Homo sapiens: one gene and its partner. The protein of the gene in region 2 interacts with the protein of the main gene of each other region in a pairwise test. Each region holds a gene or a part of one and is shown on either strand. Other genes may lie near its edges.

Region 1 (3,816 bases), about 150 Mb from region 2:
AGGTAGTTCCTCCTGTTTAGAGACCTGATTGGATGCCTCCTCCTCTCAGAGTCTCGTCTGACTCCCACACTGTATGGGAAACTCCTGAAGGCAGCCTGAGCCTTATACATCTGGGCATGGTGCCTGGCACAATGGACTGTTCATAAATATTCACGTGATACTCAACGAGAAAATTGCAGCCTGGACAGCAAAGGGCACAGGTCCAAGCACTCCTCACCAGTGTTCGGAAATGCAATACAGAAGCATTTCATAACCCCCAGCTGTGAGCAGGCCCCAGCTCAAACCCCCAACCATGGTCAGGTGCAGGCGTGGCAGCCGTGGCATAAAGGAAAGGGGAGGCATGAGCTACTCCAGCGGACCAACTCGAAAGGTGGCTTCTGATCACAACCCAGGAGAATAATTTCATATCAAAAACCAAGTACAGGCATACACATCCGTAACACACACAAGTTTCATGAAGCAATACTCTTACCCTCACTGCGCGCATGCAATGCCTTCCTTTCTGTATTCTACTCTTTTTTTCCCCATAGATTTGTGTAGAAAAGTATTATTCTTTGAATGCTAATTGCAACTCAGCGAATTGAGTTCATGGTCCTCTAAGGTATAGCTGCCCACAGTTTGGAAGACAGGGACAATCCAATTCTAATTGTCCTTTGCAACAAGGTAACTGTTTGTTCTTCCCTCCCCTGGATGAATAGGAACACATTCCGGCTGTCTGCAGACTAACCGCCTGCACTTTCCTTACATTCAGTAAGCTTCTGGCTTCAACGCCTCCCTGGAGCTGTTCCCTTGGGCCTGAATGCTATTCCCTGCCTTTATGCCTGGACAGCACCTACTCATGCTTCAAAGAGCAGCTTCAGCATCCCCCCACTTCCAGGACTCCTCTCCTGGCTCCAGACCAGGTCGGGGCTCCCAGTTATGCACCCTACATGTTCTGTGTGCGTGTGTGCAGGCATACGTGTATATATAGGAGAGACACACTGAGACATTCTCTTCTAGTCCAGACTATGAGAGCATGTAACACATATAACATGAGACCCAGCACCTAGCACCGTGTCAGACACATGATTATCTGTGTAATGACTGAGTAAGCAAATTCAGAGATGTGCTCTCAAAGCGATCTGGCAGCAAGTTACTTCCTTCATGCCTTCACTGACCTTGACTCTGACATTGTTCTTCATACCAGGATTTTTAGAGACTTCTCACTTCATCCAAACACCCCAGCTGGCAGTGCTACTAGTGTGCAGCCACCATCAGGGAAAAGCTTTGGATTCTATGCAAAACAGGCCCTCAGGGTTGTAACAATGTGGGGGCCTGAGTGGCAAGGGGCCCAGGGCTGAAGTCAGAGCCCTAGAGGAGACTCCTGGCTACCTAGATGCATCTGGGAAATTAACCCCTGGGCCTTGCTCGGCTGTTACCTGCAATACGGGGTTACTAGCACTTAGCTTGCAGGACCTGCTATGAGGAGGCAGTAAGAGAGTCTCAAATATAGTCTCACCTGCACATGCTCACTATTTCTCCTCCTACCCTATACACACCACACACTTGCGCAAGCACAGACTCGGTATTAATAAAAGACAGGATGAACAGAGGAGGAAAAAGGTGATTTTCTACAACGCTGGAGGTGAAAGGAGGCTTGATTGGGGAAACCAAGGCCAGGCCGGGAATCCTGCATCTCCCCAACCAACAAACCAGAGAGACGCCTCCACAACCCCATTCACCACCTCCCCAGCCCTCCCCTCCCTGGAAGGCAGAAGCCAGTAGGGAGAGAGATGTCACTGCTTTACAGAGGCGACCAAGGGGGATCCTGTAACATCCAAGAGCCTTGGAAGTGGACCCAGCTGAGCAGTGGGCGAGGTGGGCTACAAGGGTCTGGAGACCAACAGCAAGGCATCCCCAAGCACAGGAAAAGTGGCTCCGCAGTTGCAGATAAGGCTGGCAGGCTCTCCCTCCCTCTCTGAAGATCTGACCTCTCTCAGTAGCATCGAACCCCAAAATACCCATCTGGGGCTCCTCTCCTAGTTTATCACACCACTCCTCCCCCAAGCAGTGTCTACGCGGACAACAGGGCTCTGCTTTTCCATTCTTATGGGTGGAGAACATGGCAGTCTCAGTGTCTGTCATTTCCCACGCACCCTCCCTATGCCTGCAGGTCTCAGTCCAGGAACCTCACCCTGCTTCAGCCACGGTGTCCTCACAGCCTTTAGACCACAACAGGGAACAAGACGGGTGTGAGGCAGGGACCCCAAGTAGCACCAAAGAGAGGCAGGTCCCTTCCACCAACTCAGTTTTCAGCATAATGTAGACAGTGTATGTGACAAGTACTGAAATCACTGAATTGTCATCATCACACGGTGAGTGCCAGGAACCCACACTCAACTTCAGAACTGCCACAGGACCCACAGGGAGGCTGCGTCCTGGGCTCTGTCCTATCTCCCACCCCGAGGCAACCAGTAGCTTGAATGTTGTGTTTCTCATTATCTTACCATGGCTATGGGTAAAATTCAGTTTTGTCACACAAGCACATATCCCTAATAATATCCTATTTATTTTGCATATGTGTGAGCTTAACCAGAAGCACATAAGTCAGAAGCGCATAGTCATCTGGAACTTATTTTTTCACTCGATATTTTTTTCTCAGATTCCCCTGTGCTAGGAATCTATCTGGCAACCACATCGCTGGGCTGTGGGGTCTATATGTGATCAGCTTTCCAAGATAATGCCAAATTGTTTTCCAGGGATTATTCTGTGTCTATCTGAGACCTTTAAAGTTTAATCGCCAGAGGCTTTTAAGGATTAATTTGGGCCACACCTGCTCCCCCACATCTACATGTGGATGTTGACAAAGAGCCTGGGACAGCCAGGAAAGCAGTCCCGCTGCTGCTGCCGCTGCCACGTGGGGTCGCTCCTGGAAACCACCTGCCTCAGCACCCCTCCCAACCCTGCCCCTGAGGAGGCAACCACTGCCCATCTAACTGGAGCGCACCTGACTGGAAAGACACAGCAGGACTGGCTGGTGGTCACCAGCAAAACCTATTTCCAGGATTCCCCAGGCCCAGAGAAAAGGGAAAGGTCCCTCTGGCCATCACAGGAACGTCACTGCCCTGAGACCTTACAAACACAGCCCTCTCCCGAGGGTGGGGGGCGGGGGAGTTGGGAGGCATAGCCCCAGAGAAACAGCTAGGCATTAGTGAGTCTACTAGAGAAACACATCTTCCGCCTAGAACTGGAACTCATAACTTAAGTCCAGGCCCACCCAGTAAGAGCAAAGAACAAGGACAGTCATGGAGCTACACAATTGCTAAAGACCCCTGTGCCAACCACACTCTGGGTCAGGATATCTCACAGCTGCACACATCCCAAACGCATAACTACTGACGAGGCCGCCCAGGGGTCACTCTGACCTCCAGTTTGTTTTCTCCAAAGGCCACTGGGTGGCATAAACCAATTTCCTTTGTTGCCTGTATGAGGTACAAAAAGGAATTGCACTGCAAGAGCATCTATGGAGGCTGGAAGACTCCAAATGGATAAGTGAACACAGGAAAAATGTCTTGGGCATTCCAGGGACACTAAGTATTGCTGGTCTGCAGAAAGGGAGCATTCCCGGCAGTACTCCTGTGGGCTGAGCTGTCTAGAGTGGCCACTTGGAACACTGCCTGGCTCCACAGAAGCCGTGGTCAGATGACCTGCCAGTCTGTCTTCTCAGTGTCAGTTGTCAGACAGGAAGACCCCATAGCCATTTAAGGAAGGGCTTCACTAGATGTGTTCTGGGCAAGCACCTGCTTTTAACTAGCTAAGAGATCAACTATGCACAGA
Region 2 (3,828 bases):
AACATGGCAGAACACTGTCTCTACTAAAAATACAAGAAATTAGCTGGGTCTGGTGGCAGGCACCTGTAATTCCAGCTACTCAGGAGGCTGAGGCACAAGAATTGCTTGAACCCAGGAGATGGAGGTTGCAATGAGCCAAGATGGCGCCACTGCACTCCAGCCTGGGTGACAGAGACTCTGCCTCCAAAAAAAAAAAAACAAAAAAACAAATACGGTCTTAGGTGAGAGTTTTAAAATACATTGAGTTAGAATTAGATATATACAACAATAATATCAAGTAATGAGGGAGACCAATGAAAGTCACCTGAGGTCCTTATGTTGTCCAGGAGGAGGATAAAAGTATTTATTAGTTAACTCTAGACTTCAGTAAGAATAGAGAGTGTTTAACTTTCTAACTAGGAGAAGGGGGGAAATGAAATGATTTGTTTTAAGTTGCTCAATCTCAAAGAAGGGGAAAAGGAGAGAAAAGGGAGGAAGAAAACACAAACACAAGTGAGACAATATGTAGCATAAAATAAGATGGTAGATTTAATTACATTAAATACACAATGGACAAAATGCTCCAGTTAAAAGACAAGGTGTGTTTTATATGCTATTAACAAAAAAAAAAATGAAATTAAAAATACACAATTTACAATAGACTAAAAGAAACATAAAATATTTACAAATCAAACTTAAGATAAGCAAGACCACAATGGACAAAAATATAAAATCCTATTGGTAAACCTTAAAGAAGACCCAAATGGAAAGAGAGGTAAACCATGTTCATGAATCAGAAAACTCAATATTGTAAAGACGTCAATTTTCCCAAAACTGATTGATAGCTATAATAAATTCCCAAACTATCAAGTGCATCATTGTTGTTGGAATTGACAAGCTGATTTTAAAACTTATATGGGAGAAAAACCTTACATGAAAATACAAAGAGCCAGAATAGTCAAGACACTCTCAAAGAAGAAAAATAAGGTGGAAAAGACTTACTTTATCAGATCTCAATACATAATTGATAATAATGAAGACAGCTTGATATTGGCACAAGAACAGACAGACTAATGGAACAGAGGAAAGAATCCAACAACAGATCTACATATGTCATATGTGGACATATGACAGAGGTGGCATTGCAGATGGGCGCAGAAAGTTAGATTACAAACAATGATAGGACAGGTGTGTAACCCTATGGAGAGAAAAAAATGAAAGTGAATCCTTACCTCACACCATATGCAAAAAACCAAATCTAGGTGAATTAAAGGCCTAAATATGAAATTTACATTTATAAGGATTTCAGAATATAATCTAAGAGACTATCTTCATGACCTTGGAGTGGAAATAATTTCAGTGGTTTTCTTTTTTTTTTTTTTTTTTTTGGTTTTTTTTGAGATAGGGTCTCACTCTGTCTCACAGGCTGAAGTGCAGTGGCACAATCACAGCTCACTGCAGCCTTGACCTTCTGGGCTCAAGCAATCCTCTCACCCCAGCCACCTGAGTAGCTGGGACTACAGGCACGCACCACCATGTCCAGCTAATTTTTGTATTTTTTGTAGAGATGGTGTTTCGCCATGTTGTCCAGGTTGGTCTCAAACTCCTGAGCTCAAGTAATCCTCCTGCCTCTGCCCCCAAAGTGCTGGCATTACAGGTGTGAGCCACTGTACCCAGCCTGGAAAGAATTTCTTAAGCCACAAAAAGCACTAACCAAAATGAAAACACTGATCAATTCAACTGCATTAAAAATAAGAACTGGCATGCACAGTGGCTCATGCCTGTACTCCCAGCACTTTGGGAGGTCAAGATGGGAGGCTCATTGAGTCTAGGAGTTTGAGACCAGCTGGGGCATAGTAAGATCCTATCTCTAAAAAAAAAAAAAAAATTATCTGGACATGGAAGTGCGTGACTGTAGTTCCGGCTACTCAGGAGGCTGAGGTGGGAGGACTGTTTAAGCCTAGGAATTGAGGCTGCAATAAGCCAAGATTGTGCCATAACACTCCAGCCTGGGTGACAGAGCAAGACCTTGTCTCAAAAAACCCCCCCCAAAAAAAAAGGACACCATAAACAGTCAAGCCAGAGTTAGAGAAGATATTTGCAATACACATTATGGATAATATCAAGACTATACAAAGAATTATTAGATTAATAAGAAAAAATCTGGTAGCTCACGCCTATAATCCCAACTTTGGGAGGCTGAGGCCAGCAGATCGCTTGAGCTCAAGAGTTTGAGAGCAGCCTGCATAACATGATGAAACCCGTCTCTACTTAAAAATACAAAAAATTAGCTGGGCTTGGTGGTGTGGGCCTGTGGTCCCAGCTACTTGGGAGGCTGAGGTGAGAGAATCACCTGAGCCTGACTCAAGGCTGCAGTGAGCTGAGATTGCACCACTGCACTCCAGCCAGGGCAACAGAGTGAGACCCTGTCTCAGAAAAAAAAAAAAAGAAAAGAAAAAGAAAAAGACAACAAGTTAAAAAATGGGCAAAAGATGATAGACACTTCACAGGAGACAAAATCAAAATGGTTAATAAAAACATAAAAATATGCTCAATCTCCTTGGTAATTAGCTAAATGCAAATTAAGGCCATAACTATACACCCCACCAGACTGGCAAAAGTGAAATGTCTGCCAAGGATGGGAAGGCAAGGGAATTCTGTTTTACTGCTGGTGGGCACGTAAACTAGAACAATATTTAGAAAGATCTTCATACCCTAGAACCCAGGAGTCAGACTCCTGAGTACAAACCCTAGAAAAATTTGTGCACCATTTGCAAAAAACACACGTGCATCAGAGACATGGACAAAACTGTTGCTAGCAGCATTGTGTGTAGTTACCCCAAACTAGAAACAAACCAACTGTCCATCTACAGCAGGCATGTCCAATCTTTTGGCTTCCATGGACCATACCGGAAGAACTGTCTCGGGTCACGCATAAAATACACTACCACTAACTATAGCTGATGAGCTAAAAAAAAAAATCGCAAACAAAAATCTTTATAATGTTTTAAGAAAGTTTACAAATTTGTGTTGGGCCACATTCAAAGGCATCCTGGGCTGCATGCATTGGACAAGCTTGACTGACAGTGAAATGAATCTGTGAACTACGATACAGCCAAACAATGGAAGTTTTTAGCAATGAACATGCACAAACTATACTACGCACAGCAACATGAATAAATCTCACAGACATAATAACGAGCCAAAGAAGCCAGCTGCCAGAATTTGCATCTGTATGATTCAAGGGGATAAAGCACAGAAACAGGAAAATACTGCAATGCCTGCATAATTGGGTGCTGAAGACTTTTTAGAAAAACAAGAACACAAGACTCACATAAGCCAGGGCAGAGAGGCCGGAAGTGACACTGTGAGGGGAGGGCACTTGGGTGCTGGCAAAACTATTTCCTGATGGTGGTTGCAGATCGTTCACTTCCTAACAGTGTGTTAGGTTGTGCATTTATGTTTTATTCACTTTTCTGTATGTTGTTTTATTCTGCAGGAAATGAATGAAAAAGGGATTCTGCCTCAGCTCTGAGCCCCTCAGAGTGGGGCCAGGGAAGAAGCAGACGGCAACGCCAGGGCAGCTGTCTGGCAGCCTGGAAGGCCTGCGAAGCTTCCTAGGGGTCCGAAGGAGGGTAGACAGGTAGGGGTCTGCTCTGTACCCATCAAATCTCCCTCCAGTGAGAATGGCTGGAAGATGGCTTAAAAGGGTTCACCACTCACACACACTTCTGAGGTGGTGGGGGTTGTCTGTCAAGCATCTTCACAGGGTCACTGCCCCTCTTCCCCAAGGACAGGCAACCTCCTGGCACTGCCCCCTCAGCAGGCAGTCTAGGTGGAGGGAACAGG

What was found.
Region 1: the proteins of SH3BP2 (region 2) and ARHGAP10 interact in a two-hybrid assay, tested with the Homo sapiens proteins (one large-scale study listed by BioGRID and IntAct).

Annotation. Positions count from the first base shown.
Region 1 is NC_000004.12:148,067,316-148,071,131, reverse strand, and holds part of ARHGAP10 (rho GTPase-activating protein 10), read right to left. Parts: intron 1-3,816. UniProt on the Homo sapiens protein: GTPase-activating protein that catalyzes the conversion of active GTP-bound Rho GTPases to their inactive GDP-bound form, thus suppressing various Rho GTPase-mediated cellular processes. Also converts Cdc42 to an inactive GDP-bound state.
Region 2 is NC_000004.12:2,837,774-2,841,601, reverse strand, and holds the end of SH3BP2 (SH3 domain-binding protein 2), read right to left. Parts: 3' UTR 506-3,828; downstream 1-505. UniProt on the Homo sapiens protein: Binds differentially to the SH3 domains of certain proteins of signal transduction pathways. Binds to phosphatidylinositols; linking the hemopoietic tyrosine kinase fes to the cytoplasmic membrane in a phosphorylation dependent mechanism.